Homo sapiens: one gene and its partners. The protein of the gene in region 3 interacts with the protein of the main gene of each other region in a biochemical or structural test. Each region holds a gene or a part of one and is shown on either strand. Other genes may lie near its edges.

What was found. Proteins that work in one complex are often made in the same cells at the same time.
Region 1: the proteins of POU2F1 (region 3) and CREB1 form a complex in vitro, tested with the Homo sapiens proteins (one study listed by BioGRID).
Region 2: the proteins of POU2F1 (region 3) and PBX1 form a complex in vitro, tested with the Homo sapiens proteins (one study listed by BioGRID).
Region 4: of the proteins of POU2F1 (region 3) and PRKACA, one has a biochemical effect on the other in vitro, tested with the Homo sapiens proteins (one study listed by BioGRID).

Annotation. Positions count from the first base shown.
Region 1 is NC_000002.12:207,602,962-207,606,488, forward strand, and holds the end of CREB1 (cyclic AMP-responsive element-binding protein 1), read left to right. Parts: 3' UTR 1-3,027; downstream 3,028-3,527.
Region 2 is NC_000001.11:164,849,184-164,852,331, reverse strand, and holds the end of PBX1 (pre-B-cell leukemia transcription factor 1), read right to left. Parts: 3' UTR 2,993-3,148; coding exon of another isoform or gene 2,930-2,992; 3' UTR 501-2,929; downstream 1-500. UniProt on the Homo sapiens protein: Transcription factor which binds the DNA sequence 5'-TGATTGAT-3' as part of a heterodimer with HOX proteins such as HOXA1, HOXA5, HOXB7 and HOXB8. Binds to the DNA sequence 5'-TGATTGAC-3' in complex with a nuclear factor which is not a class I HOX protein.
Region 3 is NC_000001.11:167,374,386-167,377,885, reverse strand, and holds part of POU2F1 (POU domain, class 2, transcription factor 1), read right to left. Parts: intron 1,858-3,500; coding exon 1,731-1,857; intron 1-1,730. UniProt on the Homo sapiens protein: Transcription factor that binds to the octamer motif (5'-ATTTGCAT-3') and activates the promoters of the genes for some small nuclear RNAs (snRNA) and of genes such as those for histone H2B and immunoglobulins.
Region 4 is NC_000019.10:14,104,263-14,107,762, forward strand, and holds part of PRKACA (cAMP-dependent protein kinase catalytic subunit alpha), read right to left. Parts: coding exon of another isoform or gene 3,449-3,500; intron 3,148-3,448; coding exon 3,086-3,147; intron 2,627-3,085; coding exon 2,498-2,626; intron 1-2,497.

The DNA.
Region 1 (3,527 bases), on a different chromosome or scaffold from region 3:
GGAAGTTCCTAGAAAGGTGTTTGGCTTTTTGGTTTTTGAGGGTTGGGGTAAAGAAGACTTCCCCCACAACTGTCAGCACAAAACAGGGTATTGATTTTTAACTCTGATGTTTCTATTGGAGTTGAATACTAAATAAATAACTATAATGAGGGAAATACATTTCTAATAAAATTCCCTACATTCTAGAAACATCCCTGTTTTAATTTTTTTATCTAAATCTTTTTGTGCTTTATGTGTAAAGAAAAAAATGTACTGAGTTACAATGCATTTTATTAACACTATGTACATAATAGCTGCTTTGTGTTCAGAATAGTAGCAGTTGCTTTGTATATTAAAGTGATCCTTGTGAATTTGTGAAATATTGTCATAAAGTGCTTTTTCTTACTGTAATCTTTGTGGTATCAACTGTCATAATGCTCTTTTTACACAAACATTTATGTGCAGTCACATAAACATGCTTTTAAAAACTCTGTAAGTCTCTTTTTTGGGGATGGGATCTCTATATTTTGTTGGGTTTTTTTTGCTAGTAGTGTGAAGCCATGTTTTATTGGACTTAAAGTTACAATATATTACAAGCTTGTGTTGGAAGGCAGCAAAACTAATTCAGACAACAACATGTCTTCAGTTACTGGATCCCTAATTTTCAGGACAAAACCTGTTTTTCAATAAGATTGAACAGTGCCTATTTGTGGATTTGGAGATGTTACTGTCAAGATGACTAATGGAGACATACGACCAGCTGTGTCTGATGTCATAAAACACGTGTTCACTGAAAGGACAATAAGACTATATACCTTCTCAGGTCCCCTTGCAATTCTAAAACTCTGTGATCATATAAATTGGAAGGAAAGGGGAGGGGATATGGTTAATCTTTGCTTAAGCTGTAAGAATAAAAAAGTTATCTCCTATACTATTAACTTCTGAAATAAGTTCTGAGACGAGACATCTGAAAATAAGCAGCTGCATTATTTGTATGTTTCTTCACTGCCAAGATGTGTTCAAGCCTGCTATACCTGCCATTGTATTGGAAGGCTTAATGAATTTCATTTATTTTCTGCAACAACGATTACAGAATTTATTGCACAAAATGAGACATTTTGAGAGTGATATTAATTACATGAGGGACAATAGGCATGAACTAGGATTGTTCTAAGCAAATCGGAATCGGGTCACCCTGCCACGTTCAGGTGCTTGGACCTTCAGGAAAAGATTGCCCATCTTGTCATTTGACCAGGCACTGAAGTGACAAGACCATCCTTGAGAAGTCACATCCAAAGATAAAATTCTGATCCATTTCTAGTTTTAGTGTTTCGCCACTGAAGACTTAACATATGTCTTTTACACTCAGGTTGCAAAACACAGGCCCAAGACAAACTTAACTTCTCCCCCAAATCTTCCTTCCGCTGGTTTTTCCATCTCGTAAGTGGTGCCACTATCCATCTGTTAAATTGTTTAGGGGAAACCTAGAAAAGCACTACCTTAATCAGTGTTATCCTTCTTCTTAACTGTGCGTCCTAATTTCTCCACATCTTTCTTAAGTGCAGTGACCAAACCGGATGAGAATTCTAACACGGGCCTGACATCAAATGGAAAGGAAGGATAATGTCCAGGAGTTGGAATGTTATCCTTGTTTTTAATTAAGATGCAATTCACATAAATTAACTTTTTAAGTGAACAATTAAGTGGTAGTACATCCACAATGGTGTACAACCACCACTTCTATCTAGCTCCAAAACATTCTCATCACTCCAAAAGTAAAGTCCCGTTACTCTCCATTTTCTCCTCCCACCGCCCTTGTCCCTGGCAACCACCAATCTGCTTCCTGTTTCTTTGGATTTACATCCGGGTATTTCATGTGAGACTCATACACTGTGTATTACTTCTTTCGTCTAGCTTTAATGTGTTGTTGAGGTTGATCCATTGTAACATGTTATCACTACTTCATTCCTTTTTATAGCTAAGTATACTTTTTATAGTAAGTATGCCATTGTAGATATATACCACAAGTTTATCGATTCATCCAGTTGAGTTGTTTCTACTGTTTGGCTAATGTTCATAGTGCTGTTATGAATGTTCGTGTACAAGTATTTGAGTCCGTGTTTTCAATTATTTGGGGTATATGCCTGGGAGTGGAGTTGCTGGGTCATGTTGAAATCGCACATTTAACTTTTTGAGGAACTGTCAAACTTTCCCTCAGCAGCTGTACCGTTTTACCTTCCACCATTGATGTATGAGGGTTCCAATTTCTCCACACCTTCACCAACACTTATTTTGCCATTTTAAAAATTATAGCCATCCTCATGGGTGTGGTCTCTCATTGTGGTTTTGATTTGCATTTCCCTGATTACTAATGATGTGGAGCATCTTTTGTTGTCTTTGGCCATCTGCGTATCTTCTTTGAAGAAATGTCTGTTGAGGTCCTTTGTTCATTGAAATTTTGTTGTTGGGTTCTGAGTTCCTTATATATTCTGGGTACTAGGCCCTTATAATATTTTCGCCTATAAGTTTTTGCTTTATAATGTCCTCATTGTTTTCAAACTTACTTTATGTAATATGTACACTTCTAAAAAAAAGAAACATGGAAAAGGGCAAACTGTAAGAAGTTTTTTGTGTTATGTTTTTTGTGACAGTCTGTGCATATATACACAAATATAATGTATGTTCTCTCCTCCTCCCTCTCCCTTTTTTTACACAAAAGGTAGGTACAAACAGTGGTTTATAAACTGCTGCCATTGTACAGATACAGTTTAACCAGTCCTCTTCTGGGGACATTTGGCTGTTTGAAATTTTTTACTGTTACAGATATACAGAGGTTGGTAACTAGGTCTACACAAGTTGTATCTCCAGGATACTGAGAAGTAAAAGTTATTTCTGAATTATGGTTTTCTTCATATTTGGATATTGTTTCCTAATGATTATTAGGTATCTGCTAAGCAATTTTTATTAACTTATGTTGATTACTATTTTTATGTCAAACTTTACAGTCTAGGCATTTTTTTCTGGAATTAAAATTAGAAGTGGCACAGACTTTCATAAGGCTTTCCTTTTCTCATCTCTGTTAATACTGTTTTCTTTCTAATATCCTCAGAAATAACTGTTCTTAGCAAAGAAACAAGTTTTCAATATGCCATCTTTTCTAGTGTTACTAAATTTTTAACCCCTCTGGTTGTAGAAGGAAAGGTGTAACATGATTTTAGAGCAGAAAGCTAACAATTAAATCTTCAAGTTGGGCCGGGGTGCGGGTGGCTCACGCCTGTAATCCCATCACTTTGGGAGGCCGAGGCAGAGGAGGGCAGATCACCTGAGGTCAGGAGTTCGAGACCAGCCTGACCAACATGGTGAAACCTCATCTCTACTAAAAAATACAAAAATTAGCCAGGCATGGTGGCAGGCGCCTGTAATCCCAGCTACTCGGGAGGCTGAGGCAGGAGAATCACTTGAACCCAGGAGGCGGAGGTTGCAGTGAGCCGAGATTGCGCCATTGCACTCCAGCCTGGGCGACAGAGCAAGGCTCCCGTCTCAAAAAA
Region 2 (3,148 bases), 2.5 Mb from region 3:
ATCTGTTGGGAGTAACATCTATCACACTCCTGAGAGCCTACAACTGGGTATTATTTGTAACCTAGATTCCTTCCCCTGAAATATCTCTTGGGAACCACAATTTTTCTTATGACCAGATCACAGCAGACAAAGAGAAGAAAAGGAGAATCACTGGGCAAACAGCCATGACTTAGGAACTTAGAATTTATTATGGAAAATACTCCTGGCATTTCTCTGAACTGGTGCTTGGTGGATGGCTGCCAGTAGCAAGCAGACAAGATGGGGTGCTCTGTCCCTCTGTAATACAGCTATTGTTTACCCACAAATGATCCTTCCTTCCTTCCTTCTTATTTCCTGAGTGAAGAAGGTGGTCCATAAGGTCTCTGCCCCACCACCATAGTATGTAGACTTTTCAGTGATTAGGGCAACAGTTTAAACCATAATCTACACTAATGCAGGCCTAGTTTGGGGAAAGAGAAGTTGCCAGCATGTAAGAAAAGAAATGTGCACAAAATACAAGTATTTTTTTTTGCAACAAAAGAAACTATTTATTTGGAATATGCATTACCAGTACAAATTAGGAGACTGTAAAACCTACACCGTGTTAGTATCATTAGAGAACACAAAAGTTCAGTTGGAATCAAAAGGGACAGAAGCCTGTGCTCTCACAGAAGCAGAAAAGCTTAAACTTTCAAAACCAAAACAGAGCAGAGCTTTGCAGGTTTATATTCTGAATAATAAGAAAAGGGGAGGGGTAGGGGGAGAATAAAACCAACAACCAAAGGAAAGCATTTCAAATTGAAAATGCCAAAGGAAAGAAGTAATAAGAGAGAAAAGGAGAAAAACATTGAATGTTTTATTTATTTTAACAAAAGAAAAAAAAGTTTACAAAAAATAAAAGATTCCAGGAAGCTTTGAGCTAGGGATTGAAACCATAAAGGTGATGTGAAAAGCTCATCATTATTTTGTTGTGACTTCAAGAGTACAAGTGTTCAGGTAGAAATATTTCCTAAAGCATTGCTCCACAATTCTGCATTCTTTCTTTACTTTTCTTGCTTAAGTTCTGACCACTTTCTGAACATAATTTGTTGAATGATGGTATTTAAAATGAATTTTTTTCCAGATAATATGGCTTTCTTTTTTCCTCTAATAAAAACATTCCAAATCAAGCCAGTTTTGCAATTTGCTTTAAGCAGCTGCCTAAGTCAGAGGTTACTAAGAGGTGTACTCTGTGAAGTAAACGTAACCTCTTAGCATTAAAACTACAGCATTGAGCCTGGCCCAATATCTCATTAACTCTTCATCCAAAACCAGGACTCAGCTGGCAGACTGGCCCCAAGGACTTCTTCCTGCATGTAGTTTACTTAACCAATGGTGCCCATCATACCAGCATCTCCTGCGGGACTCTCCTGGAAGAAAAGGCCTCTTTGGTTGGAAGAGGCCTCATGGAATGTAGTTATTAATTAGGGAGAAATAAAACAAAGTACTTGGCTGTGATAATCAGAATCAAAAACAGCAAAAACCTTTCCTGATAGCATAAAAAGTTCCCTTGGACTAAACGTTTTTGAATTTTTAAAAGGCTAAAAGGAGAAGTATGTCCCTGATTTTATTTTTCTCAGGGACTGCATGAGTGTCACACTCTCTGGAAATGCAGGTGAGCAACGAGACATCAACATGGGCTTGATCTTCGCTTTTGGCATTAACTGAATTCTGAAGCAAAGTAGAAGAACAAGCCTACTTGTTCTTACTCCTCTGCCCAAGTCATCTTTTCACATCACCTTGTATACATATTGAAGAAAAACAGCAAGATCATAATCCTGACAATTAAAAAAAGCCCCCCAATAAACAAACCAAAAATAACACAAAACAAAACATTTTTTTTTTTGTATTTTTAAGAGCAAGAATCAAGAAAAGAAAAGAATTTATTTCTGGGTCTCAAAGTTAATAAACATAATAATGTGTTAGGTTGTACCTATTATGCTCACTATTCCAACCTTTTTTTTTTTTTTTTTAGTTTACAAAATGAATTACTGTCACTTTTAAACATTGTGAAACAAGAAATGGATGTGCACAACTCGACACTTTTCTAGCATTCTTGAACTAATTCACAAATGCAAGAAAATAAAAGAAAAATGAGGGAAATGATGAATGTAGGTAGTCTGGTGTTAAAAACTAATGCAGGAATGATGCGCATTGTCACAGAAAGAAGAGGGGAAATTCCCCATCCTGTTTTGCGTGCTATGAGGGTCATTTTTAAAATTTTTATTATAAACACTATTAAATTCAGACCGCTTTTTTGGTTTTTTTTTTCTTTATCTGAATATACAAGAACATTCATTATCAAATGTTCATCATCAATACTACAAAGAACGAGACACAAGTCGCAAGAAACAATGGAAAATGTTAATAAAGCTGAAAGAATCGTTGAGTATTTTTTTGTTTCTTTTAAAGTTTTTTTTAAATTTGAGTTTCTGTAGTTTCATCTTTTTTGGTATCGAAGTCAGGTTTTTCTGGGCAGAAAAACAAAGAGCAGGAAAGAGAGAGACAGAGAGAAAGATGTGTGAGAAAAGACAACCAGCAAATAAAGAATCACCACCATAGCAAAATAAAACATAAATTGAAAGAAGGTGCCACTTGGCAAATGTACTGCACGGGCGTCAATTCCATGCCAGAGGGAGGATGGATTAGGGATGAAAAGGAGGAGATAAGGAAGAGTTACAAGGTGGGCAAACCCAGGGTCTAGTATCGTTTCTCAGGGGAAATTCGCTGTCGGGGAAAATGGAGCACTCCCACATCTATTAGAAAATGAAGAAATCCTGGGGTGCATCTTGCTCTCTGTAGGACTGGCCTCATGTGAATTCCCAGGAAGCTGTGTTTCCAGAGGCATGCTCTTTCCAAACCCATCCTGCTGCTCTCAGTGTTCTCCTGCTTCGCCTAATGTGGACAGATCTCACGGATGCCACGTTGGAAGTCGGAAGTGATAGTGGGCTTGCCGGGGGTGCCGGGGGAGGTGCTGGGTATAGAGAAGACTAAGTGAAATGCTGGTTGGGGAAAATGCTGTGAAAGGTGATCATCAGTGAAAACTACGGCCCGGAGAGAAACTGCCTGTGCAAATGTAGCCCTGTTCTGATCTTTTGCATTAACTTAACATGGCAATTATTCAGGCCAC
Region 3 (3,500 bases):
TTTCAGTACATATGTACACAAAGAAGGGAACAACAGCCACCAGGGCCTACTTGAGGGTAGAGGGTGGGAGGAGGATGAGAATCGAAAAAACTACCTATCAGGTATTATGCCTATTACCTGGGTGATGAAATTATCTGTACATCAAATCCCTATGACATGTAGTTTATCTACATAACAAACCTGAGTGTAACCCTGAACCTAATAGTTTAAAAATAAGAAAAAAAGTAATTGGGAGGTTGGGGTTAGGGCTCAGGAAACTTTTCTAATTCCTCAAGTGATTTTTTAATTTTTTTATTTTTTAGACGGAGTCTCACTCTGTCACCCAGGCTGGAGTGCAGTGGTTCAATCTTGGCTCACTGCAAGCTCTGCCTTCCCAGTTCACACCATTCTCCTGCCTCAGCCTCCTGAGTAGCTGGGACTACAGGCGCCTGCCACCACGCCTGGCTATTTTTTTTGTATTTTTAGTAGAGATGGGGTTTCACTGTGTTAGCTAGGATGGTCTCGATCTCCTGACCTCGTGATCTGCCTGCCTCGGCCTCACAAAGTGCTGGGATTACAGGCGTCAGCCACCACGCCTGGCCATTAATGACTCTTAAATAAATCAAATCTTAGGAAGCACTAAGCTATAGGATTTAAGGTCAAACTCCTGGAAACTTAATCTAAGGTTCTTTAATGATCTGGTCTCTGCTAATCTTTCTGGGTTCAAATTTCACTATTACCTGCATATGCAAACTTATTCTGCAGTTGTAAGGCACTACTTATAGTTCTCAAACACAGCTTATTGATTTTTCTTCCATGTTTCTAAGGTTTGCAAATGCTGTTCATTTTCCAAGACTGACATTCTCTCTTTTGTAAGCCTATGAATGTATTTTCCCAAATTCACTGTGAAGACTTATCTGAGCACAAAGTTACAGGGGTCTCTTTGCTTGGTTCCCATAGCATTGTGTGCATATCAAATCTAACATAATTTAGGTCTGTTTCCCTGCCACTAAATTGTGAGCCCTCTGCAAGTAAATACTGAATTACTTATCTCTGAATCTTGAATATATGCTAGAATAATTATTTCATGACAAAAGATTTTGGAATGAATGATCAAGAAGAAAAAAGGCAAAAAAACCCACTCAGAAATAATAAAGAATCATTAGTGATGCACTAATGTTCCTTGGGTTGAAGCCTTGATACTCTGACATTCTTCACCCTGATTACATTAACTGACCTTACAGACGAGTGGTTGTTTGATATATTAATTATATAACATTTACCACTCAAATGACTCAAAGATGTTTTTTATAACTCACGAAATTTGTAGTTTCTATTATAGCAGTCTTCCCTCCTTAAATTAAAAAAACAATGGTTAGAAGCACATACTTTCAACACTCAGTCTATATTCTTTGAATACACTTCCATGAAAAACAATCAAAACACTAGCAGCAACTTATCCAATTTATGTTTGGCATGTTGAATAATTTCACTTAGACTTTTGGCCAAACTCTTGGTTCTTCCTTAGTGATTAAGCAGATGAATGGCAGTTCAGGGCAACCTTCAATAATGTGGTATTTATGACAAAAAACAAAACAAAACTTTTTTTAAACGAAAGTTTATAATCAAATAAAATTTAATAAAAACATTGGTCTAATAGTTTCAGGGCCAAAATGATAGTAGTTCATGCATGTGTAACATTCAGCGAACAGCCTTGGTATACCACTAATAAGCTCTAAGGAGGAGCTCACCCTGCTGGCCCTGGGGCGTCTGTGAGATGATAAACTGCGCTGGCTGCAAATTGGTGGTTGGATGCACCAACACAAACTGTTGCAGGTTGAGATTCTGCTGTTGAAGCTGTTGCAGTTGTTGAAGATCCTGAAAAATTGGAATTAAAACATGGATTGGAGATTCTGAAATAAAAGTTCGCTTAATTATAAGGCTTCCAGCTGATGACTTCTGTCACATCCAAATAAAGAAGAGTAAATACTTCGCATGCTTTCATATTCCAAACAGGGTATGCTCTGTGTGTGCTTGACAAAGCACGTGAAGCAACCTGGAGCCTCTGCAACTGACTATTTTTGTGGACTGACATATATTGTTATGATAAGCCTAATTTTCAATGTTTCTTTAAAATTCCCTCAGAACAAATATACTTCTGTTTTTTATCATGTAAAGACCAATATGGGTTTTAAAAATCAAGTGAGAAAACAGTTTTTAAATATTTGATTGATCTTTCTCTTAAATAAAAATTGATCGTGTTATGTCTGAATTTCCATCAATAAAGGGCCTATAATGACTTATGACATTTGACAACAGCTTATCTAACTCAACTGAAAAATCAGTATTCAATTTTTTTGCCCTTTTCCACATGTTCTAAAGTATTCAATTTTTTAAAACCAAAAATAGCTATCCATATAAAAATTTAATCCCTAACAACAATAGCACCTTACATTGGCCTACTGTTTTATAATTTTCAAAGTGTTTTCATGAACGTTATCTTATTTAGACTAATGTTAATATAGGGTCTCACAGCTTAGGCACTAAAAACATTTATTTGGTGATGAGAAAGTGGCCAAAATCAAAACATTATCTTGATAAAGATTGTATAAAGACTAGTCTGATATTTATTCTCTACTCTTACAGTTAATTAGTTCTTTTTAAATGGTTAGTCAAACTCTTGCTACAAGTTAAGTCCATTTCTGAGTCTTTTCTGAGACGGATAAAGACAGCTGTCTAACAATTAGACTCATAATAACTCTTCATATATTTTACTGATATATCTACTTATACCTTTTTCCTCTTCTTGAGATTAAAGATTTTATTTATTTTCCTCCTTGGTACTATTGTGTATGCTTCTTAATTTTTTTTTTTTTTAGTGGCGCGATCTCGGCTCACTGCAAGCTCCACCTCCTGGGTTCACGCTATTCTCCTGCCTCAACCTCCCGCGTAGCTGGGATTACAGGCACCTGCCACCACACCTGGCTAATTTTTTGTATTTTTAGTAGAGATGGGGTTTCACCGTGTTAGCCAGTATGGTCTCGAACTCCTGACCTAGTGATCCGCCCGCCTCGGCCTCCCAAAGTGCTGGGATTACAGGCGTGAGCCACCGCGCCTGGCGCTTCTTAAATAAATTTTTATTATCTCTAGATACTTTGCCCTAAAATGTGAAAATTGAAACCAAACAACATTCTAATGCAATAATGTTAATCACTCCATAGCAGAGATGACTCACTGTCTCACACATGGGTGGCAACATTCACCGCAGAGCACATGAAAAAAAATCCATGTCTGCTGTAATTAGCTAATTAAAATAAATACAGTAATCCCCTGCTTCAAAAATATGCCAGCTAATTATTCAAGAATTGTCACTTAATATAAAGTCAGTTATTCAAATAATCAGCTATATGTTTACAATATCAACTACAATAAGCAAACAAACATTATTTCTAATTCAGTGGTAAGGAAGGGTACCGCTTACCTCACTGATCTAGAGCTCCTCAGGCAGTTAAGGCCCCACA
Region 4 (3,500 bases), on a different chromosome or scaffold from region 3:
GGAGGTGGAGCTGGCAGTGAGCTGAGATCACACCACTGCAGTCCAGCCTGGGTGGCAGAGCGAGACTCCGTCTCAAAAAAAAAAAAAAAAAAACAACAACCAGCCAGGCCAAAATGGTGAAACCCTGTCTCTACTAAAAATATTTAAAAACTGGCCAGGTGTGGTGGCTCACGCCTGTAATCCCAGCACTTTGGGAGGCCGAGGCCGGTGGATTACAAGGTCAGGAGATGGAGACCATCCTGGCTAACACGGTGAAACCCCATCTCTACTAAAAATACAAAAAATTAGCCAGGCGTGGTGGTGGGCGCCTGTAGTCCCAGCTACTCAGGAGGCTGAGGCAGAAGAATGGCGTGAACCCGGGAGGCAGAGGTTGCAGTGAGCCAAGATCGTGCCACTGCACTCCAGCCTGAGCGACAGAGCGAGACTCCATCTCAAAAAAAAAAAAAAAAAAAATTAAAAAATTAGCTGGGCGTGGTAGCCGGCGCCTGTAATTCCAGCTACTCAGGAGGCTGGAGCACAAGAATCGCTTGAAACCCGGAGGCAGAGGTTGTAGTGAGCTGAGATCATGCCATTGCACTCCAGCCTGGGCAACAAGAGCGAAACTCCATCTCAAAAACAAAACAAAACAAAACAAAACAAAAATTAAACTCTTGATGCAGGTACTGGTGACTTTCAGGCATGGTTGGAACAACTTGGGCATGTGAATCTGCTTTTTCAACTTCCCTGCTTTTTCTTATCTTTCCAGGAAAAATTTACCATCAGAGTTGAGAACTGTTGTAAGCATACAATAGACACTGGATTTTAAAGATACTTCAGTACAGAAAAAAAGGAAATATTTCCGAAGTCATGGAGGACTGGGAAAAAAACAAAAGGAATGTAAAATGTTTCATTAATGATATTTTCACATTGATAATATATGGAAAGGGTAATACTGTAGATATACTGGCTTAATTAAAACATATCATTAGGCCAGGTGTGGTGGCTCACATCTGTAATCCCAGCACTTTGGAAGGCTGAGGCGGGCGGATTACCTGAGGTCAGGAGTTCGAGACCAACCTGACCAACATGGTGAAACCCCAAGTCTACTAAAAATACAAAAGTTAGCTGGGCGTGGTGGTGGCACCCATAATCCCAGCTACTTGGGAAGCTGAGGCAGGAGAATCACTTGAACCTGGGAGGTGGAGGTTGCAGTGAGCTGAGATCACGCCACTGCAGTCCAGCCTGGGCGACAAGAGTGAGACTCTGTCTCAAAAAAAAAAAAACATAAAAAAAAGCCCCAAACATGTCATTAAAATGAATTTCATGAATGACACCTGTTTCTTTCATTTTCTCTTTTAATTACAAACTTTGGGTGTTTTTTTAGAGATGGGGTCTGGCTGTGTTGTCGAGGCTGGAGTTGAACTCCTGGGTTCAAGTGATCCTCCCACCTCAGCCTGTCTAGTAGCTGGGACTACAGGCGTGCGCCACCGTGCTTGGCTGTTTTTACTGTTTATGATGGAGCAAACAGAAAATTTAAAATTGCTTCTGTGGCTCAGGTTACATTTCTGCTAGTTACATTGCTGCTTTATAGCAGTGCCTGGTATAAAGTCCGATCACAAAAATATTTACGGGAAGAAAGTGCACATAAACACCACTTCCCCCAAGAGTGCTCTTGTTCTCCTCCTGTTGGGCTGGTGTCTGACCCTGTGTCACAGTGCCTGGCTTTGAATCCATGGCCGGCCTGGAGAGGGAGCTTTGGGAAGGCGGCACAGGGCCCTTCTGACCCCTGGGGCTGGCACATTATGGGGGCTCGGGGAATAGTGGGTGAGCCTGGCATGGTGGCTCATGCCTGTAATCCCTGTGCTTTGGGAGGCTGAAGTAGGAGATCACTTGAGGCCAGGAGTTCAAGACCAGCCTGGGCAACACAGCAAGACCCCCTGTCTAAAACAAAAAACAAACAAACAACAAAAAAAAATTAGCCAGGCATGGTAGTGTGCGCTTGTAGTCCCAGCTACTCAGGAGGATCTCTTGAGCTCAGGAGTTTGAGGCTACAGTGAGCTATGATCACGTCACTGCACTTTCCTGCTTGGGCAACAGAGCAGGATCCTGTCCCCCACAAAAAAACCAAGCGGCCAGGCGCGGTGGCTCACGCCTGTAATCCCAGCACTTTGGGAGGCTGAGGCAGGTGTATCACCTGAGGTCAGGAATTCGAAACCATCCTGGCCAACATGGCGAAAACCCATCTCTACTAAAAATACAAAAATTAGCTGGGTGTGGTGGCAGGCGCCTGTAATCCCAGCTACTCGGGAGGCTGAGGCAGGAGAATCGCTTGAACTAGGGAGGTGGAGGTTGCAGTGAGCCGAGATCACGCCACTGTACTCCAGCCTGAGCGACAGAGCGAGACTCTGAATCAAAAAAAAGCAAGTGAGTGAACGGGTGGATAGGGCACTCTAAGGAGTGGGCACAGTCCAGGCAAAGGCCTGACAGGCAGGCCCTGAGCGAGGACAGGCCACCTCACCTTCTGTTTGTCGAGGATCTTCATGGCATAGTGGTTCCCGGTCTCCTTGTGTTTCACCAGCATCACCCGCCCGAAGGAGCCCGTGCCGAGGGTCTTGATTCGTTCAAACTGATCCAAGTGGGCTGTGTTCTGTGGGCAGAGGGGTCGGTAGGCTCAGGGCACGCCCTCCCCGCGGCCTGCTTGGCTAAGGTCTGGGGCATCCCCTCTGCCACCGGCAGAGGGGGCCCCGGGGAGCACGTGGGGTCAGCGGGGTGAGGACAGGGGGCGGAAAATCAAGATGGCAGAGGGCACATTCCTTAAGGCGGGTGGCAGGGGCCAGATCCGGCCCTGGCCTGGGGCCTGGAAGCTGCTGGCAGCTGTGCTGGGGGCAGGGGCGGGCCGTTGGGAGGGGTGGTGGGATGGGGGTGCCTGGCATTGGGCAGTCAGGTGTCTCCACACAGGAGCCCCCATGGGCACCTAGGGAGCAAATGGGGAGGGTCTGAAGCCTTCTATGGGGTTTCTGAAATTCTAGCTGTGTTGCTGGGACACAGCCAGGGGCTGGGGGTTAGCAGCTCACCCCTCCCTGGGCTCTGCACCCGGCAGCCTTACCTGAGCGGGACTTTCCCATTTTTTAAGAAAATCTTCTTTGGCTTTGGCTAAGAATTCTTTCACTGAAAGGGAGAGAGGGGAGAGTTATACAGAGACGCCCGTCTCACCGGGGTGGGTTCAGGTGATTTCTGGGGAGATACTTGGTGGAAAGTGGGGTGCAGTTCCAACCCAGAGCCTGACCTTTTTCTGGTGCCTCTGGGGCCTTGGCTGGGCCGTGGCCTGGGCCTCCCTTGCTACAGAGAGGTGGGATCCAGCTGCCACTCCATCCAAAGTGGGGTACAGAGAGTCTCAGGGGTCACTCGCAGGGGAACGGAGGGAGGTGCCCAGGCAGACCAGCCCACCCCCACTCGCCCCAGTTCTGACCGACATTCCATGGCCAGGGCCGACGCCAGCCGAGGTATTTATAGCCTTGGGA